5 separate regions of the Homo sapiens genome follow, and all the other regions are linked to region 5. Evidence: fine-mapped expression QTL. A gene starts in region 5. Each other region holds a variant in brackets. All regions are shown on one strand. Distances are from middle to middle. Region 1 has its middle 150 kb from the start of LRRN1. Region 2 overlaps CNTN4 (contactin 4). Region 3 overlaps LRRN1 (leucine rich repeat neuronal 1). Region 4 has its middle 16 kb from the start of SETMAR. Region 5 holds the start of LRRN1 (leucine rich repeat neuronal 1).

What was found. PIP is the estimated chance that this variant, and not a neighbour inherited with it, causes the effect.
Region 1: its variant is the best candidate, but not a certain one, in a credible set for the expression of LRRN1 in transverse colon (GTEx, PIP 0.68).
Region 2: its variant is the best candidate, but not a certain one, in a credible set for the expression of LRRN1 in whole blood (INTERVAL, PIP 0.70).
Region 3: its variant is the best candidate, but not a certain one, in a credible set for the expression of LRRN1 in whole blood (TOPMed, PIP 0.75).
Region 4: its variant is the best candidate, but not a certain one, in a credible set for the expression of LRRN1 in testis (GTEx, PIP 0.61).

What each region holds. Positions count from the first base shown.
Region 1 is chr3:3,642,364-3,648,483 of GRCh38, reverse strand. No RefSeq gene overlaps it. Among named protein-coding and RNA genes, the nearest start is that of LRRN1, 150 kb to the left of the region's middle. The variant C/T (reference allele first, on the strand shown) is at 3,665.
Region 2 is chr3:2,907,208-2,913,327 of GRCh38, reverse strand. The region is part of intron 12 of CNTN4 (contactin 4); the gene reads right to left. Among named protein-coding and RNA genes, the nearest start is that of CNTN4-AS1, 150 kb to the left of the region's middle. The variant T/C (reference allele first, on the strand shown) is at 2,798.
Region 3 is chr3:3,834,418-3,840,537 of GRCh38, reverse strand. The region is part of intron 1 of LRRN1 (leucine rich repeat neuronal 1); the gene reads right to left. Among named protein-coding and RNA genes, the nearest start is that of LRRN1, 38 kb to the right of the region's middle. The variant G/C (reference allele first, on the strand shown) is at 3,462.
Region 4 is chr3:4,284,461-4,290,580 of GRCh38, reverse strand. It overlaps a transcript of SUMF1 not described here. Among named protein-coding and RNA genes, the nearest start is that of SETMAR, 16 kb to the left of the region's middle. The variant C/T (reference allele first, on the strand shown) is at 3,442.
Region 5 is chr3:3,797,048-3,803,167 of GRCh38, reverse strand. It overlaps LRRN1 (leucine rich repeat neuronal 1), which reads right to left and starts at 3,737. Exons shown (of 2, transcript NM_020873.7): 1 at 3,249-3,737. LOC100130207 (a long non-coding RNA gene) reads left to right here and starts at 2,293. Exons shown (of 6, transcript NR_149025.1): 1 at 2,293-2,467. RefSeq lists silencers at 589-883, 3,417-3,526, 3,667-3,756, 3,767-3,836.

The DNA of each region.
Region 1 (6,120 bases), 150 kb after region 5:
GAGCTGGATGCAGAGTACAGGTGGATTTTATGATATCTGTTTTTTGACTGTGCTGTGGCCAATCCTGAACCTTTTGAAACATAAGGAGACACAGTGTCCCAGAGGTCAGTCATTACAGAGTCCTGGAAAAAGGGATTTCTGAGCCTTCTACTCACGATTTGAGAGAGAGATCTGTGGCAGCTTTATCTGCATTATCCTGGAAAATTAAGAGAAGATACTATGGTTTGCCTTTAGCTCACAGATTGCTTGCTATCAGCAAAGTGAAGACTTTGGGAGGAGCTGAAAACATAATTTTTGTTTGGGGATGCTCCTCTGAATTCAGCAGAATACCTGACTTGAAACAAATATTTGGATTATCTGTGGGGTTGCTTTATCTAGAAATCCACATATTTGTGCTTCAGACTAGTGGTATATATGAAAAAAAATAATTCAGCTAGAGAATTTATGAGGAACACCCTTCCGTCCTTCTCTTCCCCACACACAGATATTCAGGAACGTTTTTTTCTTCTTCCAGTGAATATGTGAACGTTTTGCTAAGTAGAACTTGTTAATTGCCACCACATGGCCAGACCTCTTCTTAGGGAAGAATATCATTGTTATGAACTGAATTGTGTCCCCCTAAAATTCATAGGCAGAACTCAATGTGACTGTATTTGGAGATAGGGCCTTGAAGGAGGTAATTAGGGTTAAAGGATATTATAAGAGTGGGTTACTAATCTAATAAAACTAGTGTCCTTAGAAGAAGAGGAAGATGCCAGGATGCCTGTGCACAGGGGGAAGGCTGGGTGGGGACCCAGCAGAAAGGAGAACATCTGCAAGCCAGGATGAGAAGCCTCACCAGAAGCCAACGCTGCCAGTGCCTTGAGCTTCGATTTCCAGTGTTCAAACCTGGAGAAAATACGTTTCTGTTATTTAACCCGCCTCGTCTGTAGTATTCTGCTATGGTAGCCTCAGTGGATTAATACACTAAAAGTAAATAAATAACACATGGCTTCTGTGGTTAGCGGATTTACTGCAGTCAGTTGAGGAGAAAAAACAAATGTGGATAAAATGGAGAGAATATACTGTTATGTTGAGCAAAGCTGACAGTAATATAATAAATATAATATAATACAGACAGTAATATAATAACAAGAGCTTATTTTAATGATTAACTTACCATGTGTTAGTTTCATGTGAAGGGTTGAATTGTGTGTCCCCAAAAAGATATGTGGAAATCCTAACCCCTAGTAACTTTGTATGTGACTTTATTTGGAGATACAGTCATATAGAAATAATCACATTAAAATGAGATCATCAGAATGGACTCCAATCTTGTATGACTGATGTCGTACAAGGGGGAAATTTGGACACAGAAACAGACATGTGCAGAGAAAAGATGTCATGATGTCATGAGGACACACAGGGAGAAGATACCATGTGACTGGAAGAGGCATCTACAAACCAAGGAGTGCCAAGGACTGCCAGCAAACACCAGAAGATGTTTGGTTAGTGTTGTAGCAGGCAAGCTGCAGACAAAACCCCTCAGACACCGAGTTAAAGAAGGAAGGGCTTTATTCGGCCGGGAGCTTTGGCAAGACTCACGTCTCCAACAACCGAGCTCCCGAGTGAGCAATTCCTGTCCCTTTTAAGGGCTTAGAACTCTAAGGGAGTCCGCGTGAGAGGGTCGTGATCGATTGAGCAAACAGTGGGTACGTGACTGGGGGCTGCATGCACCAGTAATCAGAATGGAACAGAACAGGACAGGGATTTTCACAATGCTTTTCCATATAATGTCTGGAATCTATAGGTAACATAACCGGTTAGGTCAGGGGTCAATGTTTAACCAGGCCCAGGGCGCGGCGCTGGGCTGTCTGCCTGTGGATTTCACTTCTGCCTTTTAGTTTTTACTTCTTCTTTCTTTGGAGGCAGAAATTGGGCATAAGACAATACGAGGGGTGGTCTCCTCCCTTAGTGTAATCGCAATTTTTGCCATTACTTTCAATGGCAAAAACCACAATTACTTTTGCACCAACCTAATAGCAGCTACAAGGAAGGATTCTTTCCTAGAGTCTTCAGAGAGAGAGAGAGACAGAGAGAAAGAGCTCGGCCCCCCTGACATGTGATTTCAGATTTCCACCCTCCAGAACTGCGAGATAACACATTTCTGTAGTTTCAGCCACCTAGTTTTTGGTGCTTTGTTTCAGCAGTGCAGGGAAATGAATACAGCCTTGTTCTCAGAGCTGGACAGGGCAGCTTCCTTAGTCACTAATTCACCACAGATTTTAAGCTATCACTGGAATGATTTAGAAATTATAGTGCCAGTTCACTCAGGTTTCCTCACATGGGGTGAGCTGTCCTCACTGAAGTACTGAAGTGTCTCTAATGGAAAGAAAATAATATGAATAATATAAAACATCACTTGTCATTGACGAACTAATGCTGTATTTTTGTGATGCACACACAAGTTGTATAGTGACTACCTATAAAGTAGCTACTATTATTATCTTATTTTATAGCTCAGGAAATGAGAGTCAGAGAAATTCAATGATTTGCCTGACTTACCCTTGGTCTCACACCCAGTAAATCCTGCAGCTGGCATTCAAACTCAGGTTTCCTCTAGCTAGGTAGTGAAAGGTAGGATTTGGATAAATAGTGTAGGAAGTACTTCTGAGCTGTGAGACTAAACAGAATTATTTCCACTAGAGATATTTCCAGGCATAGCTAAAAGAGAGAGTCAAAAGTGTGCTTGGAGAACGAGGAGCCCAACATAACAGGACTGGCATGGATAAGACTTCAAGGTGGCCCGTTAGTTTCATGGAAGGTCAACGTTTCCCCATCCTTAGGAATTCCTGCTTCCAAGAATTGATTAGTGATAAGCAGACAATAGAACTTGACCCAAATCCATTTCACATGCGTTTCCCACTGAAACTGCCTTTCCAAAAATTATGACAGTGAAAGAAATCTGACCTAACTGACTCCATCTTTCTTTTAACCTTTAAACTACCCTTGTTCATTCCTGTGTGTTAGCCAAAGTAACTTTGGAAGGAATTTAGTTTGTAGTTTAACTTTGAAACAAAGAGTATAACAGCCCCTCCCCAAAACAAACTACCTCCTTACTTGGGGAGCAGACCACCTTTGTAAAACTGACAAATTAGCCACAGAATTAGAAAGTGTGGTCAGGAATCATGCAGCCAGAGACCATAAGATTCCTAACCTCACCAATTGCTCCTGCAGATAACATTGCTGTTGTAAAACCTAAGATCAGTGTCCAAGACAGTTTTCAGACCTTGCATTATGACAGACCAGCCGCTGCCACCCAGACTGGCAATCTGGCTCAACTAGTTCTGCAATCCCACCCAGGAACAGAAGAGAGCAAGAAGAACCTGCTCCAACCCCCTATGATTTCATCCCTGACCTAATTAATTGGCGTTTCCCATTTCCTAGCTCCCCACCTGCCAAACTCTCTGAAAACTCCTAGCCTCCACATTTTCAGGAAGGCTGAGCTGAGTAATAATAAAACTCTAGTCTCCCCTTTAGCCGGCTCTGTGGGTATTAAACTCTTTCTCCACTGCAGTTCCTCTGTCTTGATAAATCAGCTCAATTTGGGAGGTGGACAAGAGGAACCCACCCAGTGGCTACACCAGCATGAAATTCTGTGTCATCTTCTTGCCTCCTCTCTATA[C/T]TCCTTATCTCTCAAGTTTCTCTGTGGCATGGGGGATAATGGAGAACATTGACCATATCAATCACATGGAAAATCCATGTGTCCCTTCTGAGATTTACATAGCAACACCTAAGCAAATAGGGAGTTTTCTCCAGAACTATTCAGTATTTTATAAACAAGTAGCAGTAACATCCATCATCTTTAAAATCTCCATTCATTAAGCACTGTGCTGTAGCAAAACAAAACAAAATGAAACGAACAAAAGAAACCCCAGAATACAATATAACATGGCAAGACAAAACAATAACAACTAACTTAATGCAGATATACTTAGAGCAAGACCATCCTGCTTTACAGAAATTCTGAGTTGTGGAGTATTTAACAAGAAATATAGCTTTATAGCAAAAGTCTCCAGCTAAATATGGGGCAGTCGAGTGTAGCCAAATGCAAGCCTAAGATTTCTTTACTAGGCAAGAGCAATTTGTCATTACCAAAGCAAGAGAAGAGGGGTAGCATTGAGTAGAAAAAGTGGTCATTTGTGATGGGATCATCTGGTGTGGGTTTCGCTGCTGTGTGGCTTTGGGGTCTCTTTGTCTCCCAGGGCCTGTGTTTTCATCTATAAAATGAGGAAATTTCACTAAAAATCATAAATTCCTCTTAAGCTCTATGTCCTGCCTTATAGAAATCAGTGCTTCTCAAGTGCCTAAAACTTCTTCAAAGTGGGCTTTTTATGATTTGAACCTCTTTAAGATGGGGAAGTATCTTCTCCAAGCATTACCTTTCGGCTTGGAAAACCCTATCTTGGTCCAATTTAAATTATGATAAATGCAAATCAATGACATCTAAATTAGAAAGGTCTTATGATAGTTGATCATACAAGAAGGCTTCGGTCATTATATTAATATGACTTTTCTCTAATCAGGTATTTCTCATGTCATATTGATAATTTATTCCTTGGCAAATGACTATATGTCTTACATTGTGAACCTGGTTATTTATGGTTGTATCGATATACAAGCCTAGGTCAACTGCTCGTATTATCATCCCAAACATAGAATATCTATGGAAGTCACTGCTACAGTCTTCTGGATTTCACATATTATCTACATGGAGTTCCTTTGGTACATATGTTAATTAGACATAAGACAGCTAATGACACCAATCATACTATTTGGAGAAAAGAGTAATGTTTCTTATCTCCTAATTCATCTACTCATCTGGTAGGGAACTTCTGTCCCTTCTCTTTCTATTCTTCCTATTCTTAAAAGTATTTATAATATTCAGCTTTCCTATAAAAGGATTCCCTATTCAATAAATGGTGCTGGGATAACTGGCTAGCCATATGCAGAGAATTGAAACTGGACCCCTTACTTATACCATATACAAAAATTAACTCAAGATGGATTAAAAACTTAAATGTAAAACCTAAAACTATAAAATCTCTGGAAGACAACCTAGGCAATACCATTCAGGACATAGGCATGGGCAAAGATTTCACGACAAAGGCGCCAAGAGCTATCCACCCATCAGTGTGGAAAATGCACAGAAGACAATTCTAATACCCTTCTATTCTCCTTCAGGGCTACCTTTCTGTTCTTCATAATGCTTTAGTCTGAATTCATTAAATCTATAATTTTTTAAAGACATTCATTCTCATTTCTGATATTAGCTAGCATTAATAATTAATACATGGGGCCTATCAGATACTCTACATAATTGCTTATTCTATCAGCCTTTGAGCTAAATTAGAAAAAAAAAGATGTTTCAAGTGAGAAGTGGTAAGTTAAAGGAAGCTAACTGAGGGACAAGTTAGAATGGTTTATAAAAGAACTATACTAAAGCTGAAATGAAAAAAAACTAAGTTTGAGGATTTTACTCCACTATTTACTATCTGGATGACTGAAGATAATTAATTTCTCTCAGTCTATTTCCTCATCTATAAAATATAACTAAATAATAAATACACAAAGATAAATAAATAATAACAATATGCTCATCCTCAAATTCTTAGTGCCCAGCACACAGTAAGTGTTCAAATAATGCCTGCTGAATGTCTGATCTTCACCATTTTATTGGTAAATAGAAAATAAGTATGGGGCAAGCATTTAGTGTTGTCAGCATCAATGAAAATAATAAATACAAAAACACCTCATGAACCATAAAGCACTGTACAAATGCAAGGGCTTTTAAAAACCCAAAGGAACATGATGGCTTTCCCACATAGAAGATATAAAATCCTAACCCACTCTCTCTTTTCCCTTCTGTTACAATACAATGGCAGCAACAGCAATTTCAGCATTGGGTTGTGAAACAAGTTACAGGAGCTAGGCTTCATGCCCCAAAGCACAAACAGGTGGAGATATAGGAGCATCTTCCTGACTCGGCAAAGGAAAGTTTTAAGAGCAATAAGCGAGAAGACAAAGCTTTTCAGAATTGCGCTGTGTTTCAGAGCTTCCCTCTGCCATCTCTGGGCCCTG
Region 2 (6,120 bases), 890 kb after region 5:
TGTTTAAAATAATTAGAGATAGGGAAGGGCTTACAATTGCCATTTTGTTCATTTGTTTTATGTATCTTGTAGCTTTTGTGTTTACCCTTTCTCCTCTTTCTGTCTTCAAAAGAGGAGATTTTTATTCCTCGATTTTTATTTGTTTTAATTTTTATTTATTTAATTTGTTTATTTTTGAGACAGAGTCTCACTCTGTCATCCAGGCTGGAGTGCAGTGGTGTGATCTTGGCTCACTGCAGCCTCCGCCTCTCGGGTTTAAGTGAGTCTCCTGCCTCAGCCTGCTGAGTAGCTGGGATTACAGGCATGCGCCACCACATCCAGCTAAACTTTGTATTTTTAGTAGACATGGGGTTTCACCATGTTGGCCAGGCTGGTCTCAAACTCCTGGCCTCAAGTGATGTGCCTGTCTCAGCCTCCCAAAGTGCTGGGATTACGGGCGTGAGCCACTGCACCCAGCCTTGTGTTTCCTTTATTTTTAAAAATGATATGTTTTCATTCACTGCTCATTTCTCTTCTTGTATATTATATAGATATTATCTTTGTGGTTACCACTGTAATTATATAGCACATCTTAAAGTTATAATAATCTATTCAAGCTGGCAACAATTTAACTTCAATCATGTATAAAAACTATTTACATCCTGCTGCCCCACTTTGTTACTGATGACACAAATTACCTCCTTTTATACTGTACAGTTATTAACATAGATTTATAGTTACCTTTTATACTTTTTAAAACATTCTATACCAGATTTTTATAAAAGTGATTTTTGTACCTACAATATTACAGGATTTTATATTTGTCTGTATGTTTACCTTTATCTAGGAGTTTTAAATTTTCATATAGTTTTGTGTTGTTTATCATCCTTTCATTTCAACTTGAAGGACTCCCTTCAGCATTTCTTGCAGGGTAAACCTAGTGGTGATAAACTCATTCAGCTTTTGTTTATCTGGGAAAGTCTCCACTTCTCCCTCATTTTGGAAGGACAGTTTTACCGGATATAGTATTCTTGATTGGCAGCTCCTTCTTTCAGCACTTTGAGTAGATCATCTCTCTCCCTTCTAGCATGCAGTTCCTGCTGAAAAATCTGTTGATAATCTTACAGATGCACACTTGTTTGTGATGGGTTGCTTTTCTCTTGCTGCTTTCAGGATTTTCTTTTGGTCTCTGACTTTTGACACTTTGATTATAATGTGTCTCAGTGTAGATCTCTTTGGATTCATCCTAGCTGCAGTTCTTGAGCTTCTAAAATTTGTGAATCCATTTCCTTGCTCAGACTCAGGAAGTTTTCAGCCATTTTTTCTTCAGATAGGCTCTCTGCCATTTTCTCTCTTTATTGTCTGCAAATTACATAACACTTATATTGTTGCACTTGATGATGTCCCATAGACCCTTCAGCTTTCTTCACTTTTCTTATTTTTTCCGTTTTGCTCCTCTGCCTCAATAATTTCTAATGTTCTGTCTTTGAATTGCTGATTATTTTTTTCTGTCTGGTCAAGCCTGTTGTTGAATCTCTCTAGTAAATTGAGTACTATATTCTGAATTCACTTACTATATTCTTCACCTCCAGAATTTCTTTGGGCTCATTTTCATCTTTTATCTCGTTGATACTCTCATTTTGTTCATGCATCATTTACCTGATTTCCTTTAGTTATCTATCTGTACTGTCTCTTAATTCCTTGAGCGTCTTTATGAGAATAATTAGAATTCTTTGGTAATTGATATACCTCTGTTTCTTTAGGGTTGATTTCTGTAGATATAATTTGTTCCTTTGGTTGGGCCATGTCTTCTGGTTTCTTTGTGTGCTTTATTATCTTCTGCTGGAATTCTGGCATTTAAAAAATCAGACACTTCTCCTAGTCTTTGCAGTCTGAGAGCAATCAGTCCAGCTAGAGATTCCGCAAATCTCTCAAGCCTTTTCTGATGATGCATCTTCTCTGGGCTTTTGTATGTAATCCCCTAATTGAAGATTTGTTGGTTTCTACTCAGGAGCTTCCCTTGGTGTCTTTATCAGGTACTGTGGACTTTCTAGTGCTGCAGGAAGCATTAAATTTCCCTCTGTTGGTACTGGACCTCCCCTAGTGTCTGTGGTACAGCCTGATACCAGACCAAGCCATGTTGATAAGACTTTGTTCTCAGGGGGCCTCCCACATAGCCCAGTTTCTGTCATCACTTAGATTCAGGCAAAACGGAAACCACTCCCTTAGGTAGTACTTCCCCCTCAAAAGTAAAAACACTGGATATACCTTCCACTCTTTTCTTTCCCTCCCCAGCAAGAAATTAGGAATTGGAAGTTTTCTACTGATAGCTCTGTGCTACGCTGTGGGGAGTGGGAGGTGCTCCAGCAAGCGAGTGCCATAAATTTTTCTACAGTGCTTTAATGCTATTGGCTTTACACTTGACTGGAGTGCAGAAATCTCTTAACTGGTTTTATTTCTTTCAATGGCAACTGGTCCATTGGGGAAAAAGGGTCTGGGGCTTCCCTTTTGACTATCTTGATGAATCACCCCCCACTACCAAATCTTGAATGTCAGTCTAATTAATACTCCTTAGATTAGGCTCCCCAAATGCAATCAATTTTGCCAGAAGGTGGTGGAGGGGGAAAAATAGTTACTTCATTTATTTATTCATTCACAAATTCAAAGAACTTGGGGTAGATAATGGTAAAAGACATAAAGTAGTAAATACATTTACAATATGACTCAATTCAAACAGGGGAAGGGTAGAAAACAATCTCACTAGAATTAATACAATAGAGTTAAATTAATCCCAGACTGGGCAAAGAGAAAAATAACA[T/C]ATTTCTTACTGACTGATGAAAAACTTTGCCTCTTTACTAGAAGATGCAAACTTTTCTTCTTTTAAGAGAGAAGTTCTACATTTTATGAGAAATTTATTGGAAATATTTTTATGAAAAGGACTAAGGACTTCAAGATGGATCATCTCTTCACAGCAGTTTTACAGAAGATTCAGATATTTTGGTTATAGGATTGTATATAAAGTATTAATGCTCAGTGATGCCTTAGGCTGCATTCTAGAGTAATATTTTAAACTCTGACTCACTGCATTTCTTTGGGGGAATTGATGTAAGGGATGATCATAATATTTATCATAATATTTATCAGCTTTCAATGTCTCCCCTCAGTTGGCTTTAACTACCAGAGTCATGCCATGCAGCACTTTAGCTCAAGCCTCACATGGTAGTCTGTCAAGACATTCTGTGTGCTTTATTCCTATTCACTCTCTTGTTGAAATGGGGCCTTCAGCCATGGTTGGAATCTCTGATGCCTGCTCTTTCTCTCATACAGGGGTACTTCGGATTCAGAGTGCTTTTTGATCCAAAATCAGATGTTTTGGTAGGGAGACTATGTTCAATTTTTAAAAACAACAACAAAAGCCCTCTGTGTAGGACAGATTTCCTATTTTAGGATAGTGGTTCTCAAACGGTGGTCTTGGATAAGCAGCATCAGCATCAACATCACTTGTTAGAAATATAAATTCCCAGGCCCCACTCTAGAGCTACTATATCAGAAATTCTCAGGGTAGAGTTCAGCAATCTGTGTATTAACATGTCCTCTAGATTACTGTGATGCACGATAAAGCCTGATAATCAATATTTTAGGAAAATTCAATGGCTTTTTAAACCTGATCAATTAAAGCAATAGTTCTCAAATTCTGTTGTTCTTCGGAATCACACCTGGGGAGCTTTAAGGAAAAATGCCTGGGTCCTAGGATCAGAGACTGAATTAGTTGATAACGAGTATGGTATGCCATCAGGATAGTAAAGAGTTCCCCAGATGATTGTAATCTGCAGCAAAAATTGAGAAGCACAGAACTGGGATTTACTGGTGATTTCATGGCTATCTCTAAGTGTTTGGTATGGATACTAAGAGAAAAAAAAAAAAGCCCAAACCTTCTTATATTGTTATAAACACCTTTAGGTTTGCAAAGGCTTTCACGTGTAATTCTGTCAGTTTTCACAGTAAGATGAGTAATGACATCCTCCTACTACTGGTACGTATATGATCAATAACTTGATAAAGACACCAAATTTGCTTTTGAGAGCCAAGTGCACAGCTCCCCTCTTCATGACAACTTAAGTAAAGCTCTTGCCTGGATGACTGCAGTTGGGTAAGAAAGGCATGTGTCCTCTCATTCGATGCTGATCACACTCAGCACATCTGATTATTTTGTAACCTGGCTCAACGAGGCAGTTGAGAAATCAGATGCAGATGAGCACTTGTGAAAGTCCCTATGAAATAACTTTTAGTTTAGCCTTAATGTTTTTCTAATTTGGGAGCCAATCACCTGGGTAGATGCCAAATTAACCAGATAATCGCTCAAGGTTGCACCTCACTTTAATTGGGCCATCAGTTACTTGATGGTATTTGAGTGTCCTGCCAGGGTCAGATGTGTTCCACCACACAGGCCAGGAGAACCCCCGGGATACTGAACCATTAGACATAATTTCCTCAGGATAGAAGCTACTTCTCCTCCATTATACAGTCCTGGAAAAGTCAAGTCATATTCAAAAGACCACTGGGCAGATACCCACTCACCCTTAGGGATGGCTCCTCCCACTGTAAAATCAAAAAACTTTTTTCACAATATTCTCACATATATAAGCAAAATCAAAGATTTTTGACCCCCACCACTTCTGGAACCCCACTTAAGAGGTAGCTTAGGAAGTGATTAACATGGAGATTTTTTAAAAAGCTAGCCTCATTATCTCAAGGTGGAAATGGGTCTGAGGTACAGTTTATGTTCCAGAAATCTCCCTTCTGGATTAGACTTAGGCTAGACTTTACCTAAGACCCCATCCTTGTTTGGTTCCTCCTTCTTCCTTATTCTGCTTTTCCTTACAGGTTTTTCCTGGAGAACACTCTTTCAGTGAATTGCAGATACCTGAATACTTGCCTCAGACTTGCTTTGGAGACCTTAGCTATCCTCTATATTTACCCAATGATTTCAAGTTTGGCAATTTAATCAGCAGTCCCCATCGCCAATATGATCATCTGAGTGGACACAAATACTAAACATGGGTAGAACTATTACTTTAGAAAAGTTATTTTTTCACCAACAAAATACCTAACTTAGTTATCTTTACTTTTTAAGTTACGTATAGAAGATTCAGTTTCCCCATGATTACAAGACTCTATTTACTCTAATTGTAATACACCTTCATGAGTGGGGGAGAGGAGTGGAATGATGGTTATCACCCAGGGAGTTGTACAGCACCTCAGGGATGTCCACAGGGATATATCCCACAAGTGAATCTCATCCATGACTCAGGCTAAGACAGCAGAAAAGATCTAGGAGGAGTTGCCTTGGGAAAAAAATAAACTGCCAATTGTCATAGTTCAGTCACAGACAAGGACACTTCCATTTGATGTACTCATAACCAGGCCTACCAATATACTGACCTCAAGATAAAAGTCTCTCTATGGCGTTTGCCCATCCAGTGAGTAAATCACCCAGCACACAGATTAATTATTTAGCAGTTTAAATCCATTAAATAGACATGTTACATACACATTAAATACCAAGACAGAACACATAAAATAAAACCAAGGGAAAAACCTATTAAATATATGCTTCCTAACCATCTCTTATTCATGACCGTAGGGCTATCACCCAACATTAAAAGGAATCTCCTCTATAGCATTGGAGGTTCCTGATATTTAATCAATAGGTGGAACCAACATATATATTTTTTCTTTCTTATACAGATTATCAAGAGATAATTTTTTTTTTTTTTTGAGACAGTCTCACTCTGTCACCCAGGCTGGAGTGCAGTGGTGCAATCTTAGCTGACTGCAACCTTTGCCTCCCGGGTTCAAGTGATTCTCCTGCCTCAGCCTCCCAGATAGCTGGGACGACAAGCATGCACCACCATGTCCAGCTGATTTTTGTATTTTTAGTAGAGATGGGGTTTTGCCATGGTGGCCAGGCTGTTCTGGAACTCCTGACCTCAGGTGATCCACCCACCTTGACTTCCCAAAGTGCTGGGATTACAGGCGTGAGCCACTACACCCGGCCAAGAGATAATCTTAACAAGAGATTATCTTGTTTCCATTTTGTTTCTTTGTTCAATTCAGCATCCTCATGATTCTAGCATAGGT
Region 3 (6,120 bases), 37 kb before region 5:
TTTTAATGTGACATTATACATAGAACAACTTTATTATAGAGTCCTTAAGCCATTTTAGATGTTTACAATGTATGGCATTTCTCAGGAGCTACTCGCCAATAGTGTTTAAATGTAAATCCATTATCACAACAAGAAAACTACAGACCAATATCCCTAATGCATACTGATGCAAAACTTCTCATATTAAAAAGATTATATACCATGAACAAGTTGGATTTATACCAGGAATGCAAGGAAGGTTCCATATGTGAAAAACTATCAGTATAATATGCCACATTAACAGAATGAAGAAGTAAAAACACATGATCATCTCAATTGATGCACAAAACCATCTGACAAAATTCAACACTTTTTCATGATAAAAACACTCAACAAATGAAGAATGGAAGGAAAGTACCTACACATAATAAAAGTCACATATGAAAAGTCCACAGTTAAAATGATTCTTAATAGCAAAAAACTGAAAGTTTCTCCTCTAAGAATGGGAACAAGGAAAGGATGCCTATTCTTGCCATTTCTATTCAACACAGTACTAGAAACTCTAGTCACAGCAATTAGACAAGAAAAATAAATAAAAGGCATTCAAATGGAAAAGAAGTAAAATTATCTGTTCCCAGATTACATAATCTCATATATACAGAAAATCCTAAAGATCCCACAAAAAACCCACTAAAACTAATAAATGATGTTAGCAAATTTGCAGGATACAAAATCAACACACAAATGAGTTATATTTCCATAAACTAACAATGACTAATCTGAAAAGGAAATTAAGGAAACAACCCCATTTACAAAAGTATCAGAAAGAATACAATGCTTAGGAATGAATCGAACTGAGGAGGCAAAAGACTTGTACAATGAAAATTGTTAAGAGATAACCAAAATAAATCAAAGATGATATAAACACAATGATGAAACATCCCATGTTTATAGACTGGAAAATTTAATATTGTCATACTGTCTATAACACCCAAAACAATCTACAGAATCAATGCCATCTCTATCAAAATCTCAATGGTAATTTCTACAGGAAAAAAATCTAAAATTCATATAAGATCAAGAGATTTTAAATTGCCAAAGTAATCCTGAAAAAGAACAATGTTGGAGACTTCACACTTCTTGATTTCAATACATACTGTAAGGCAACAGTAATCAAGATGGTGTGGTACTGACATAAAGGCAGACATACAGACCAATGGAACAGAGTCCAGAAATAAAGCCTTCTATACATGCTCTTTATGATCTTTGACAAGGGTGCCAAGACTATACAATAAAGGACAGTTTCTTCAACAAATTGTGTGAGGAAAACTGGATATCTACATGAAAAGAATGAGGTTGTACTCTTACCTTATGCCATATACAAAAATTAACTCAAAATGCATTAAAGACCTAACCATAAGACCTAAACCTATAAAACTCCTAGAAGAAAACATAAGGAAAAAGCTTCAGGGTATTTGGCAATGGTTTCTTAGATATGACACCAAAAACACAGGCAACGACAACAACAACAGAAGACAAATGAGATGATTTCAAACTTAAGGTCTGTGCATCAAAGGAGATAATCAACAGCAAAAAAAGATGACCTACAGAATGGGAGACAATATTTTTAAATTATATATATGATAAAGGGTTAATATCCAGAATATATTATAAACTCCTACAACAAAATAACCTTATTAAAAAATGGGTGAAGGGCTTAAATAGACAATTCTCCAAAGACATACAAATGACCCACAAGCATATGAAAAAATGCTCCATATCACTAATCATAAGAGAAATGCAAATAAAAAGCACAATGAAATATCACCTCATACTCATTAGGATGGACACTATCACAACAGAAAATAACAGGCATTGGAAAGGATGTAGAGAAATTGTAACCCTTGTTCACTGTTGTAGAGAATGTAAAATGGTGCAACCATTATGGAAAACAATATAGTGATTTCTCAAAAAATTGAAAATATAATCACCATACGATTATGTCCCAGTTCAGGGTACATATCCAAAAGAATTAAAGCGGAATCTTAAAGAGATATTTGTACACCCACGTTCATTGCACCTATTATTATTCACAATAGCCAAGAGGGAGAGGCAGCCCAAATGTCCATTGACAAATGAATGGATAAGGAAAATGTGGTTTAATTAGATCCCATTTGTCAATTTTTGCTTTTGCTGCAATTGCTTTTGGTGATTTTGCCTGTGCTTATGTTTTGAATGGTATTGCCTTGATTTTCTTCTAGGGTTTTTATAGTTTTGTGTTTTACATTTAAGTCTTTAATCTATCTTGAGTTAGTTTTTTTATAAGGTGTAAGGAAGGGGTCCAGTTTCAATTTTCTGCATATGAGTAGTCAGTTCTCCCAGGACCATTTATTAAATAGGGAATCCTTTCCCCATTGCTTGTTTTTGTTAGGTTTGTCAAAGATCAGATGGTTGTAGATGGGTGGTCTTATTTCTGAGTTATAAAAAGAAACAAGATCATGTCCTTTGCAAGGACATGGATGAAGCTGGCAGCCATTATCCTCAGCAAACTAACGCAGGAACAGAAAACCAAACACCACATGTTCTCACTTATAAGTGGGAGCTGAAAAATGAGAACACATGGACACACAGGGAGGGGAACGACACACACAGGGCTTGTTGGGTGGTGGGGTGAGGGGAGGGAGAGCATTAGGAAAAACAGCTAATGCATGTTGGGCTTAATACATAGGTGATGGGTTGATAGGTGCAGCAAACCACCATGGCACACGTTTACCCATGTAACAAACCTGCACATCCTGCACAGGTACCCTGGAGCTTTAAAAAAAAAAATTAAAATTAATTAAAAAAAAAGAAAAAAAAATGTGGTGCGGTGGCTCAAACTAGACTGCTCTGATCCCACCAGAACCCTGCTGCTGTCCATTCACATCAGGATTACCCAGGAAAGCAAACAATTTAGCCTTCCTGGCATTATATCACCTAGTTCCTTGGACTATAGAGTGAGGGCTTATGTATCTCCTATTTAGAGAGTGTGTTTCATAATTGTAGAAAGGGTAGAAAATGGACCAACCAGCAGGCTGAGTCATTTTTTAAGAGGGTGGCAGGAATAACCCCAAATGAGCTCAACAAAACTGAGGAACCCAAGGAATGGTGCTTGAAGGGAAGGTGGGGTTGGTTGTGGTCCTTAAAGCTCTTGACACTTGGTGTGGGGTTATAAAATGGGGGGGGGAAGGAGTAATAAAGCCCTTGCCCCCAATCCAAATGCTCTCAAGGACTTAGTATGTAGTCTTATTTTCCAGTTTTGTTTGTTTACAAAGTAACCTTGCTTGATACTGCATGGAAAGTCAAGTTTTTCTTTTTGCACACTCAGGGCCACCTGCCTGGGCCGGCATCTTCCCCAGCGTCTTCACAGCACTCCTAAGGAAGACTTTTGCAGTGCTTTCCAGAGCTGAGGGGAGTGGAATTTAGTCCAGAGAAAGTGAAAG[G/C]AAAGTGAGGTTTCCTGTTTCATCTTCTCAAGGCGGATGTTCTCAGCTTCCTTCACACCTCCTTCCCATGGGTGCAGGAGACAGTACAGCTGGGTTGTGTAGGTGGGCCAAGAAAAAAGGGGCACTGGTCCAGTCCCAGGTTTGGCCCAACACAGGTACACAGCAGATACCATCCTATCTTCCCCTCTTAATAGCAGGCCAACCACATGTAACCCTTTTTTCCTTTACTGATGAACCTTCTTATGTGGTACCAGCAACAGGGGACAGACAGGCCCACCCACTGTAGTCTAGGGAGAGTTTTGCTACTACCCCTAAAATTGTACCACCCCCCATATCCCACTCCTTTTTGTAAAAACGAAAGGAGTTTAAACCTGTAAGCATGCTATTGCTTCCTATGTGTTAATCAGTTTCCTTCCATTTGAGCTGCATAGGAGGGAAGGGTATTGGAAGCACAGGCCGTGATCTTGTGCCAATCAGTAAAAACCACTACTACATACACACACACAAACACACACACACGAAAATGTGGTGTGTACATACAATGGAATACTATCCAGCTTTAAAAAGGAAGTCCTGTCATATGCTACAACACGGATGAATCTTGAGGACATTATGAAATAAGCCATTCACAATAGCGTGAATAGTACGTGATTCCATTCATATAAAGTAGCCAAAATCATAGAAACAGAAAGTAGAAAGGTGGTTGCCAAGGGCTTGGAGGTAGAGGGAATTAGTGTTTAATAGGAATAAAGTTTTAGTTTTGCAAGATGACAAAGTTCTAGAGATCTGTTACACAATAATGTGAATATACTTAACACAACTGAACTGTACACTTAAAATTGAGAGATGGTAAATTTAATGTTAAGTGTTTTTACCACAAAAAAAGCGAAGCCATAATAATTCAGGCCAACTTTTATAACATATACAAATTAATTATCTTAAATTCTGCAACAAATAAGAAATGGCTGGAATAGATTTTTTTTTTTAAGTGAAATTGCTTTCTTCTAGGGCTGACTGACTAGATCTATCAAATGTAAGAAGAAAATGTCCTGCTAATTACCAGGGTGATGTTCCACAAAGAAGTCTGGCAGTTTAAAGAAACAATCCTTTAATTAACAAAACATGGCTTTAAGGCCCAGAATTGGCACGGGATGCATTTCAAGAGTCCCACAAACAATTATACATTACATTTGATGCTTCTTTTTTTTTTTCCAACACGATATGTTTGGGACACTCTGTTCTGAGTATAAAATTCTGAAGGAAATGAACTGCATGATCATCACCATCACTGCACTTGGCGGAGACTCTCACTTTCCCCATAGCATTGTGTCAGATAGGATATTAGTTTAACAGAATGACATTATTCGGTGGGACTTAGCTCTATGATTTATATGCATTAACTTCTTATGAAGTTGGGCAAAAAGAAATATATACTCACAGTAACAAGCTAGTTATTTGTATTTCTGTTACTGCAAAAAAAAAAAAAAAAAAATCAGGCAGCTCTGGGGTTGGAGAAAGAATTCTACCCTGGAGGAATCAAGTGTTCTGTATTCGAATTATGCTTCTCCACTTACTAGATGTGTCACTTTGTGCAAGCTGTAGACCTTCCCCAACTGACGATAGTTCAACTTACAATTTTTTGACTTTACAAAGGTGTGAAAGCAGTACACACTTAGTAGAAACCATACTGTGAGTACCTATATGATAGCATCCTATTTTTCACTGTCACTGCAGTGTTCAATTACATGAGAAATTCAACACTTTATTAGCAAACAGACTTTATGGTAGATGATTTTGCCCAATAAAACTAATGTAAATGTTCTGACAATATTCAAGGTAGGCTATGATGTTTGGTAGGTTAGGTGTATTAAATGCATTTTAAACATAATGATATTTTCAACTTAAGATGGGTGTATCAGGACGTAACCCTATCATAAGCTGAGAAGCATCTGTACTTAAATTCTCTGTGCCTCAGTTTCCATAGCTAAACTTAAGGCTAAGTATATATGGTTCATACATGTAAATTATGATAACAAAAAAGTACTTATGTAAAAATATTCAGCCTAGGGCCTGGGTATGATGGTTAATACCCAGTGTCAACTTGACTGGATTGAGGGATACAAAGCATTAACCCCGGTTGTGTCTGTGAGGGTGTTGCCAAAAGAAATTAACATTTGAGTCAGTGGGCTGGGGAAGGCAGATCCACCCTTAATCTGGTGGGGACAATCTAATCAGCTTCTAGTGAATATAAAGCAGGCAGAAAAACATGAAAAGAAGAGATGGGCCTAGCCTCCCAGCCTACATCTTTCTCCTGTGCTGGATGCTTCCTGCCCTCGAACATCAGACTCCAAGTTCTTCAGTTTTAGGACTCAGACTGGTTCTCCTTGCTCCTCAGCTGGCAGATAGCCTATTGTGGGACCTTGTGATCATGCATGTTAATACTTAATAAACTCTCCTTTACATATATTATATATATAATGTATATAAAATATGATATATAATATGTATAATAATATATATATCATATATATATATATATATATATATATATCCTGTTCTGTCCCTCTAAGAGAACGCTAATACAGATTTTGGTACCAGGAGTGGTTCTAAAGGAACAGAATATTAAAGGATGGAGTTCTTTCATTGGTTTTGGGGTTTC
Region 4 (6,120 bases), 490 kb before region 5:
AGAAGACCTGGAGGGGAAGGGAAAAGCATGAACAGCTGATGTTCCATGTTACCTTCTCGTTCTTAAAATGTGCTTTGGCTCTGTAGCAGCAATACCCTTACGGTCCACAAGGTGGTGTGATAACCCTATCCTTTTGTCCATTTAATTACAAATGATAAAATACCCATTTTGCATAAACTGGACAAGAAGTTTTTACTCTGTTGAAAATGAGGAAAGAGTTAAAAAATGTTTGTAGCAAATTGTGATGAGAAAATTCAGATAAACGTTTTCCTTTGCTGTGATTTGTTTAGACTCACATTTACACAATCTAAGAGAAATTTATGTTCAAGTTATAACGAGTACATAGGCAGTTGTAAAATGACTGAGTGAATATGTTTGACAAAAGATGGAAAATACTGTCTAAAGATGCTAAACTTGGGAATGTGTTTTATTTGTCTGAGAGTTAAAAATTGGGTATGTCTTTTAAGTTTCATTGTGATTAAAAAACCAACCCAGCATAATTTAAATTCATTCACCAGATTGAATGGCTACAGTGTGCCACTCATTATGCCATGTGTGATTTGCCTATTATGCCTTATACCTGGATCTCATATCTAGATCTGCCAATAGTTGCAAAAATGCAACTTAATCAATTATGGAAGACGTTTTGAAATGTTTTGTTGTTTTTGTTGATAACACAATTTATTTGATGCTAGAGTCATTCATAATAAAGAAAGGTTTATTTTTAGCATTTGTTCATGTAGTTATTCAGCGTGTTTATTAAGTACCAACTGTGTGTTGGCCATTGTGCTAGGTGCTATTTTAAATGGTCGTTTAGTTTACAGAGTGCTCTAGCTAGAAACCCTACAACCAGATGCTTTACCCCTTCTGGATGATAGCAACAAAGAAAATGGGTTTAAATTAAGAGAAGGTAGATCCAGTTGACAAAAGGAAAAGAGTACTGTAATGGGTGATGGAGGGTGAGTATGGAGGGGGTTCCTTGTAGGAAATCTATAAGAACAGAATTGATATAATTAAGATATATACTTGCTTGAAGGCAAGGGCTTAAGCTCTGACTCATAGAGCTTCCTATCTTATTTTAGGTCTCTAATTGCTAGTGTAGTAATGTAAGAACACCCTTCAACAGACAGTCTATGTGTGACCGATTTACACCACACTGGCCCAGTGCGGTTCCTTGCTCTTTGGAGCCTCTTTCCTCACCCATAAAATGAGGTTGATAATGCCAGTCTCATAGGATTGTCCTGGAGATTTAACTGAGCAGGAAATACAGGATTTATTTTGGAGTCAGCTTTGTAAGTGCTAAGAGAAGGAGGAGATCCTTGGATTCTTGCTCCTCCCCAAGTGGGACTATCTTGGCCTCCAGCTGCTCTTTCACCTCCAGTCTGAGTTTCTCAGGCTTCCTTTCTGTCACTATCTTCCCCATTTTCCCGAAACCTCGTAGTTGCTTTCAGTGTTGTTCAGTTCTGGTTTGGCTGGGATAGGGTTTAAAATAGCCCTCACTCTGAATGTGATGGCATTACTGCCCACCAGGAGCAAATTATGCTATGTACTGTAGCAGAAAAGGTTGTGTGATAATGAATAAAGAGATGGAGTTGGTAGAAAGAACAACACCACTGTGGGCTTGAGGTCCTTCTTGATTTTCATGGATAAAACAGTAAATAATAAGGAAGTTTAAGAGAACGTTGTGAAGTTCCGAAACCATCTTCCTTTGGGGGCAGAAATTAAATTGTATTTAGAAACAATGGAGGGCTTTGTAGGTTCAATTTTTTTTTTTTTCTAGACAGAGTCTCGCTCTGTTGTTCAGGCTGGAGTGCAAATGACACGATCTTGGCTCACTGCAACCTCCACCTCCCAGGTTTCAAGCAATTCTCCTGCCTCAGCCTCCACTCTGAGTAGCTGGGATTACAGGTGCATGCCACCATGCCCAGCTAATTTTTGTATTTTTGGTAGAGATGGGGTTTCACCATGTTGGTCAGGCTGGTCTCAAACTCCTGACTTTGTGATCTGCCAGCCTTGTAGCTTCTAATTTTTGAGTGGGGTGATTGTATGGCAATACTAAGCTAGGTTAGCGGGTATTCAATTTTTCATACCACTGTAGAGTTAGGAAAGGGAGCTCAACGGGAAGAGCTGTTTCAGGGACAGAGACCCATGATAGTAATTCTTTCAGAATGCTTTTACATCTATCCAAAAGCTTTGGAATATTAATTTTTTTAAAGTAGAAAGACACAGAAAATAATAATTTCTGGTTCTTAATCTTTGCCTAAAGCTGATGACATTTTTGTGCTGTGCCAACAGGGAGATTCTGTCCATGCATAGTTTTTTCCCTTGTCAGTACGTTTGCTTACTGCTCAGATGTATTAACAGAAATTAGGAAACTGGTATCTATGTACCAGTGATGAAGCAATTAAGAACTTCATTTGTATTATTGTATATTCCTCACCTTCCCTAGGTGTTGTCTGGTGAGGTAGTTCTAAATGGTCATAGACCTAGATTGCAGATAGCAGGTGCCTGAACTCTCTGGGGTCATTATTTTGCCTTTGCATGGGATCATCTTTAAATTTTTCATACCACTGTAGAGTTAGGAAAGGGAGCTAAAAAGATGAGCAGAAGAGAAGTATGGATGTCAGAGCAGTAGCATTAATTATCCAAATCTGTGAATTATCAGAAAGCTTACAAAATATTCTATTTCCCTATATTGGAAGATTTACTAATTTACTTTAAGCTTTGCTTGGTTGATAATAATAGAATTTTCTAAGCACAAACAACTAGCTAATGCAGAACTAACAAGATGACAAGGAAAAGCACTATATTCTTTGAATCTGTTGTTCCTAAACTGCACTGAGGCACCTTGGGACTCCAAAGGGAATACTGTAGTATATTTTAAATATTCAAGGGAAACAGTGATATTCAATGTCTGTGCAAATTACTAGCTCTAGGTAGGTCATGGTTTCAACATTAGATTGTGCCACGTTCCTTTTGGTGAGGTCCTATCTTTGTGAAGCTGTGTTTTTGGTAATTGCTGTAATACTAAGCAAATACCAGTGAAAATCAATGTGGAATGAGAAATGAGAGTGACAGCATCCAATCTGATTCCAAAGTTAGAAGGTTGTGCGGTGACCAACAAGCACACACATCCCATTAGTAAGGAAATGTGTGAAAGATTTTTTTTTTTTACAATTTATGTTCATTATTCTTCTAAATGGCTATTTGGAAAATAAATGTTTATTAAGTTTTTTGAATCTTTACTGTGAACAACTGATGTTTTACTGCCTCAATTTCTGAAAGGTTATTTTCTTATTTTGTTAAGTTGCTGGTTCTGAACTTTTTGGTCTCAGGTTCCCTTTATATTCTTAACAATAGTTGAGGACCCCCTGAAAGCTTTGCATTGTGTTGTTCTGTCTACCAGTATTTAACATATTAGGAATTAAAACTGAAAACATA[C/T]AAGAACTCAGGAACATATAGCACACATTCCATTAGCTGTGAGAAACATGATGTCATGTAGCCTCTGGAAAACACATACACTTGTGAGAGAATGACAGTTACAAGGCAAATGACACTTAAGTATTATTATGAAAATAATTTTGACATTGCAGACCACCTGTAATGATCTCGGGTATCCCAGGCATCCCTGGACCACACTTTGAGAACATTGCAATAGATGGTTTTACAATAACCTAAAACATAAATCCAGGCTGCAGTGATACACCCATTGCATTGTTCTGCAAGTTCTGTGTAAATATTTCATGTCTAAAATGCTTCATAATTTTTATCTATAGTACATAGTTTTACAAGTGTACGTTAGGTGTTCTGTGCTACGATGGTGTTATGATGGATCTTAATGTTTTACATTTGCCTTATTGACACTGATAAAACATCTTTGAACTTATTATTTTATAAGCTTTAACTTGCGAAACTTATTTGTAATATTCTTTTATATTTTCCTCATTAATGATTGCATTTTCTCTTGGAATCATGGGCTTTAACAGAACATGACTGCTGGTGTGATGAAAATGAAATTTAAACAATAAAACCTTCAGCACCATTTTACTCATCATTTTGTTCAGAAAATAAACCAATCATATTCTTTCTTCAAATAAGTTGTTTTTCATTCCAGAGCTAAAATTAGTTTTACTGTGCGCTGATTGTTGCACAGCATAAAAAGACTTTCTAGACTTTTACTGCTTTTGTGCTGTATTAGAAGATGTTCCCAGCCTTGCTTCTTTGTTAATACGGTTTTTGCTTTGTTTTCCTATAGATGCAGAAAACTCATGTTTATAACATGCAAAAGGAACAATAAGAAACTTGCCCTAACTTTATAGTATTTTTATTCTGATAATTTGTTTTTAATATTTTATTATAAATTTTTCCATTTATAAATGTTAAAAAGCTACATACTTATTACTTACACAAGAATTGTAGTGCACTGACAATAAAAACCAGAGAAAAAACTAAACAATTTGAAAATAGAGGTAACTATATAATTTAAGCATATAACAAATGAGTGATACTCTTAAGGAGTCTTGTAAAGAATGTGCAATACATTCTTACTGCATACTTTGCTCTGGGCCAAACAGGTGGATATTTCTGCAAGTATTTCTAATTTCTTGCTTGGTGGGGGACCTAGTTAGGATTTATTTGACAACATGCTCCGACTATTAGCTTGAATTAATGAATTTAAATTATAATTTATACTTTTAGTTAACTTTTTTTGCTTATTGCATTGCTATTATAGTGTTTATCCATTAGTATGGAAGTATTTCAACATTTTGGCAGTTGTGTGCATTTGGATGAATATATCAACTTTAACCTTTGTTATTGAAAGTATCATTCATCCCTCATACAGTACTGATCACTTAGCAAATATGAGGCATTATGAGGTACTGTATGAGGTGACAAATATGTGTAAGGCCCAAAATGCATCCTCAGAGAGCTTGTAATCTATTACATACCTATACAAGGAAATAGAATATATGGAAGAAAGTACTAAGTACTAGAGAAGAATTGTTAATATTACATACAAGTTGTATTCATGTAGAGAGATTAATCTTGTTTGGGAAATTTCATTGTCAAAGTTTAGGAATAACCATATACATTTTTTCCTTATAAGAATCATACATTCTCATTGTGAAAATTCATAAACTCTAGAGAGTCACAAAAAAAGAAAAATCACCTGTAGCTTTTTATGACCATTACCATCATTAATATTTTGGTATTTAGCTTTAGCCACTTTATTATTTTGAGTAGACTCTTCAGAAAAGTGCTTTGTAAAGATACTCATTCTAAGCATAGTCCTAGGAGTAATGCAAGTATTATATACAGCCCTTGCTATTAGTAATTTCGAAAGAGGAGATACTATTAAGTCAAACTACTTTAAGCATAAGTTATTTTATGGAGAATAGTGATTTGGCTATAGTTATGCCTATTATAATTATAATTGTACCCAAGAATTATGAAAGAGATAATGCAGCTGCCTTATTCGGTGGCTTAGAGACAGGAGAACAGCACTCATGGAATTCTAGGAATGTGATAGTTTCTACTGAGAAACAGAAGAAAGCCTCATCTTACTTGTGAGACGAAGATGATCAGCGGTTATTAGAGACTTTATTATAAATGGGGGTGAAAGCTTAGCAAATCTTCCATAAAGTAAGTTCATATCAAAGTTAACAGCTAAATCTTTGTATTGGAAGTAACATTTGATTACTAAGATATTCAGTTTACAGGAAAAATAATGTATTAAATAATCCCTTTATCTTAGCTTTTCTCATTTACAAGCACCACAGATAATCCCAAATAACAAATTACCCCCCATGCTTCTTTATATTTTGGGTTGGAATCTATGGTACTATTTTTTTTTTCAGGAGTTTTTTTGCCTTTCCTGATTTGAAGTAATTGTTGACGCTAGTGTGACTGCCTAGGAAGAGCCAGCTTAAAGACATTTTTGGTGGCAAGAAAATATCACACTGGAGTAAAATATATATCAAAGATAGTTTTTAAAGTGGATCAATCACATGTGGGAAATGCAGACTTGATGCCAGGGTCACCTGTAGCAGAATGGAAAAGCAAGGCAAGCCCCTTCTTTTGTACTTTCTCTCCTCCTCCTCCTCCTTCTCCTCCTCCTCC
Region 5 (6,120 bases):
AAGGTGGCCTTAGCACAGACTAACCAGAGAGAGATCAATGGTTGAGTTTTTCCTTGCTTTCCCAGAATTTCAGACATTAACCAGAGCTAGCTGAGGTTATGTTTTAGAAACACAGTCTGCAGTTGGATCTGGTCTTGAGATCTTTTATTTAGCAGAATGATCCTTTTCTAATAATTAAACACTTTATCAGTTTTATTTACCAAGGAATGAGTTCTAATCTGTCCTTTCATTAGACTTGCAGAATAACGATTACACAGGCAGGTTAATTGCCAAAGATAAGGTTTCACAAATGTGAGGGTCATTTTTAACTTACCAGGTTTCAAAAATATCTAGATAACTTTACAACAAAATGGTTTATAGTCTAGAAATGTCAAGTTTATTTTAAGTTACCCTTCAACTCTATCAGGAAGACATCAGGCGTGTAGAGTCAAATTAAGAGTTTATTAGAATGATTTGTTACTTTCTGACTTCTATATAGCTCTAAGACACAAAATGCAAACTTGGCTATAACATTTTCTTACTTAAATTTGATTCAATTCATTTTTCCCCATCCTGTGAAAATATTGCCTTATGTATAAAAGGCACTGAACCTGCAAAAATAACTTAAAGGAACATGTAAAATAGCAGACTAACATCTGTTGTCCACCCCTCCCCCGAAACACTGAGCCCTCCAAAACAATGTTGTCTTTTTTTTCTGGCGGGGGTTGGGGGGGTGTTGTATTTTAATGTCCCTTTCAGTGAATATATAGAATACTGGGGCAAATGCTGTTCCGTGAATAGGTTCTTTTTCCCTTCAACAGTGTTTGAGGTTGACAAAAGAAGAGGCCACTGGGGCTGGTTAGTCGTAGGTATTAATATAATCGCCTGCCTCACGTGCGGCCCACACTGCCTGCCTTTTGTTCAGCTGTCGCACAACGCCAAGAGGTGAACAGTGCAGTGTGGTCACGCAGCTAATGTTAGACACGGCAGAAAGGCCCTTGCTCCAGAGTCTACTGCACGACTACCTCCCCGTTCACTGTTATGTGACCTGAAAACCACTCGGGTAACTAGGGTTGGGACAGTTGCATCACCTGCAGTTCTACAGTTTGGTGCCTTAAGAACCGAAATGACTTTGGCTAGACAGTGGACATTCTCAGCTAGACAGTGGACATTCTCAGGAAATCTTCATGTCGGTCAACGACAACGATCTTCTACTATAATGAATAGCTCTGAAGATGAGGACCAAATTTGAGCAAGAGTCAAATTATTAAAAGAAAACTCGAAAAGTTGAGGGGTCAATTCAGAAATCACTTCAAGCCGCCAGAAGTGGGTTAAAGTTACTGTCTGCTTCACACAAACCTTTTCCTAACTAGCTTAGAATATCCAGCTTGAATATTGCACGAATATATACAGCCAGGTAAAGAGCAAGCAGCACTTTGAGCTTTCAATACAATAGCACTTAAAGAATTTGGCTCCTGAATAAAGGTGTCAGCAAACCATGGAATTCCCAAACAGAAAAACTCACACTGCGTCTTTATTCTCTTTTCTTAAGGTCTATTGTTAACTGAAGACTCCTTGTCTTTTCAAATTCCTTCATGTGAATGGATGAGGCCAGACATCTGCCAGGATCCGCTCACATTTGCATGCAAATCAGAGACTTCGGGACACATATGGCCCTGGAGCCAATAACACTTTTACTCTAGATTTATACTGATCAAAGTGCCTTCCTGAACTTTCCACTCCTCCAGCCCTAGCTTTTAAAAATGAAATAATGAGCCTATTCCACTAACATGATTTAGATTGTCATGGCAAGACAAAACAAAACATGTTGTCTTTTAGAAAATCCTCCACGCAAAAGCCAGAGTCGGCAGCACCTGTTCCCTCACCCAATTAGAATTCCACTTTTCCTTTACGATTTAGGTTTGGGAATGAAAATACTTACGGCGGGATGGGATTTAGACTCTTAGCCTTTGCCTGTGAGCTTCAAGTGCTTCAGAACCATTTGTACCCCGGCCAGTCGTTCACTCACGGCCAGGCTCTGTTCTTGGCGCTGGGGCCGCGGCGGTGGACACGGCAAGCGAGGTCCCCTTCTCCTGGATCCGGCATCCGGGCCGAAGCGCCTGGTCCGCGTTTCCGCGCGGGCTCCCCTGGAACCGTCCCGGGACACGCGGCCCTCTCGCTGCTGGACTTTTCCCCGAGCCCCAGCTTGCCAGGCAGGGACTCCCTGGGCGGGCGGCGGGGAAGCGCCGAGTCGGCGGCCGCCCACACCCCTCTCCACGCAGCACAAAGGACACTCGCCGGCAAACTTTCCTCGCTTCTGACCCGGGCCGAGCCGGGAACTCAGCGCCAGCTCTGTTCCTGGCGGGGCTGAGGCTTCCCTCACATTCCAGGCCACCTGGCAAACGTCCTGAGGCTGCCACTCCTTCTGGGCTCAAGGCTCACGGGCTGAGGTCTGTCCCCGCGTGGAGCTCAAGGCTCACGGGCTGAGGTCTGTCCCCGCGTGGAGCTCAAGGCTCACGGGCTGAGGTCTGTCCCCGCGTGGAGCTCAAGGCTCACGGGCTGAGGTCTGTCCCCGCGTGGAGCTCAAGGCTCACGGGCTGAGGTCTGTCCCCGCGTGGAGCTCAAGGCTCACGGGCTGAGGTCTGTCCCCGCGTGGACCGCCGAGAGTTCGGTAGATCCTTCCCAAGGCTCTGACTTCAATACTTTCAGTGCCTTGTCAATTATACCCCTTGCCCCTTTCTCTTACCAAGGCCACCGCCAAGACACCCTTTTTCTTTCCTCTCCCCGTCGCCCGCCACCTTCCTTGCCCTCCTCTTGGCCCTCTTTCCAGCTCCCTGGGCCCCCTTTCCGCGCTGCTCTCCAGCCCCAGCTGCCTTCCCCGGTTCACATCCCGGCAGCCCTCCTCCCTCCCCGTCCCCGGGCACCTCCCTCCCCTGGTCGGCCCCTGAAATCCAGCAGGCTCGGCTCCGGTCACTGCCTTTTTTTGCCTGTTTCTATCTGGCCTGCCTTCCCAACTATCGCTCTCCCACACCTTTTTTTTTTTTTTTTTGGCAAGGGGGACGGGGGGAAACGGGGCACTATATTCTCGTTTCCCGACTTCGTCATTTTCCCCAGCTCCGTGAGCCGCGCCCCCTCGTCCCCCTCAGGCCCGCGATCTTACCCTGAGGTTCCCCAGACCCCGTAGGGTCTCCCACGCCACCAAGTTTGCCTCGACTTCCCCTCGCTGCCTCCCACACCTCCTGCCGCGGCGCGGCCGGCCAGGGACTTACCCCGAGGCCCAGCTGGTGGGGGTGTTGGGGTGCGCGCGGACCCGGCACCCACGGCGGCGGCGGCGGCAGCAGCAGCAGGAGGAGGAGAAAGACGAGGAGGAGGAGGAGGACTAGCTGAGCGGCGCCTCCTTCCCAGCCCGCAGCGCGCACTGGCTCCTTGGGGCACCCCCGGGAGAGCACCAAGACCGGAGACTAGGCGGCGACACAGGCAACCGCTGCTGCACGGGGCTGGGCTCAGTCGGCTCTCAGAGGCCAGGGCAGGGGGAGGCAGGACTGGGAAGGAGGGTCGGAGAAGTGGGGTGCAGAGGGCGGGGCAGCGAGCGGCCAGGTCCGGAGGAAGGCGCCCCAGGCGCCTAGGGATGCCGCCGCCCGGGCTGACGCCGTCGGCCCCTCTCCCCGCCAGGCGGGCGCTTGCAGCCGCGGGCGCACGGGCCTCGCCTCGTTCACCGGCTCGTTGCCGGCGCCCGCGGTGCGCCCCGCTTTGTGCTCCCCGCAGCCGGCGTGCACCTGGTGTAAGCAAAGGCGGTCAGCTGATGGGCCGCGCGCGGATTGGCTGCTCCGCCGTCTCCTCCCCTCCCGCCCGACCCTCTTCGCGGCCTCCCGCCCCCGCCCTCGGCGCGGCCCCGTGCTGGGCACCATCTGTGGACCGCCCAACAAAGGCGCAGCGCGGCGGGGCTCGGGTGGCCGGGCCGCGGTCGCCGCTTTTTGTCTAGGGGACGGCAGGCTGCGGCTGGGCAGGGAGGCGAAGCGCACTGCCGGTTTTTAGCAAAAGACAGACCAAAAGAAAATACACGTCCGTGCTAGGAGGCCAGCTAGGCACAATGGGGCCCCATCTCTTTGCGGCGTAGAACTCGGGCTCGGGGGCTGAGAACCAGACACAGTTCGGCCTGGGGCTGTGGGAGCCAAGTTTCGGGGTGAAATCCGACCCTGCGTCTTAAAATACAGGGCGCGTCCTCGGGCTGTGTGTGCGCGCCCGGGGGCGTCCTCCGCAGACCTGGCCCGGGCCGGTGTCCCTGCCGCGGGAAGGAGGATTCGGACGCTTAACTCAGCGGCGAAGTCGCTTCCCATTGGAGGAGGCTTTCCGAAAACGTTTCTGAAACTTTGAAATTACAGCTTTCTGATTTGTGAGGGGTGGAAGTTGTGTTTAAACAGGCGGCGAGGGACTGAGAAGGCAGTGTTAAGTGGAGGTGTCTCCGAGGAAGGGGAGGAGGGTGGGGACGGAATAGGTCTTCGGAAACTGCGCGTGAACCTGCGTCTCAGCTTCAAAGTCGCCAGCCGGAAGCAGGGCTTCAGAAAAGCCTTGGCACCCTTTATTGGGGGAATCGGCTTTAAGCGAAAGCATCATTAGCCCCTCAGTACTGAACAACTTCTGGCAGAGGAACGTGGTGACATTTCATTATGATGTCTAAACTTAGAACTTCTGGAGAATTTGGAAGGATACATTATTCGAGAATCATCCTTTGGATTCTTCAAAGCCACAGGATACATTCAATGTCAGTAACCATATTCTTGATCCCTGTAACATTTATTGGCGTTTCGCTTAGGTCTCTGATAAATGTTTGACGTCTTTGTGTGTCTTCACACTTTGTTATCCTGAAACTGTGTCATGTAGACATAAATGGTCACAGTTTGTCTTAAAAGTCTTTAGGAAAAGGTGATACTAGCACTTGGGCTAGAAGGTCGTGCAGAGCAGAGGAAGAAAAAGGCCCACTGCTGTCTACAAATGAATGGGAAGATTTAAGATCTTTCAAAGCAAGTTGAGTCTAGACCCTTGCCCAAGTTTTGTAACATGATTTTGTCTCTTTCCCCCCTTTTCATGCAGATTATCCATGGAGTTAGCATGCAGATAGCATGGAGTTTGTCTGATAGAAGTTGGGCTCTGGTGGAAGTACGGAAATTGAATGGTCAGGGAAAGATAGAATGCAGGTTTCTTAGGGAGTCTCTATTAGGTTTCCAGCCTGCCTTCCTGGGAGTGGAAGAGAGATGAGGTTGTGCCCTTCAAGGAGGAGCTTTACAGAGGTAGGTCTTGGAGGAGCAGTCGGAGCAATTAATGATGGTGAGAGTTGCTCTTGGGAGGCCAGATCTAGAACAGCCTCCAGGTTTTGGAAGAGACTTCATGAGAATGGTGTGAGTCAGGGACCAAGGTGTGAATTTTGAAACCAGGCCAACACTGCTTAGGTCCCAGCCCTGCAATTTATGAGCTGTGTCCCTAATGGCAAGTCACTTTATCTCTTTAAGGCTTAATTTCCTTGGCTCTAAAGTAGGGTTAATATCAGTACTTATCCCAAAGGATTGTGATGGTTAAGTGGGAGTAAACATGTAAAATGCTTAGGACAGTGCTTAGTATATAGTAAGCATTCAACGACAGATGTAAGCTCTAGGCATTATTAGGCAGGTATTGAAGACTAAAACAAGACATCAATTCAGACAGGTGGGATAATGATTCCGCATGTGACAGAATATCTCAAAGGCACTAGCTGCTCCAGTGGAGGAAATGGACTCTGTCTCTCCACTGTTCGATTCATTTCTTTTCAAATTAGCATATCATTTATTTAAACTAATTTCCCTCTTCCCCAAGGCAAGAGTGAGAAAGGCAGCTTTTCCCATTTCTACTTGACCACTGCATGCATTTGGTTCCAGACAGAGAGAAGAGCATTATCATTAGGAAGAAATGTGTGTCAGGGATGGGGGAAGGAATTTGGGTGAGAGGATGGGGCTTGCTGTGGACAGAAGAGGAAAAATGAGCATGACAATTATGAAAGAGTCTGAAATGTGGTGTAATTATTAGAAATTTGCTGAATTGCCTGAATTGGTAATTGGTCCAAATTTTAGAAATTACCCTTTTTTAACTCTGCAAAGGGGTTTCGGGACT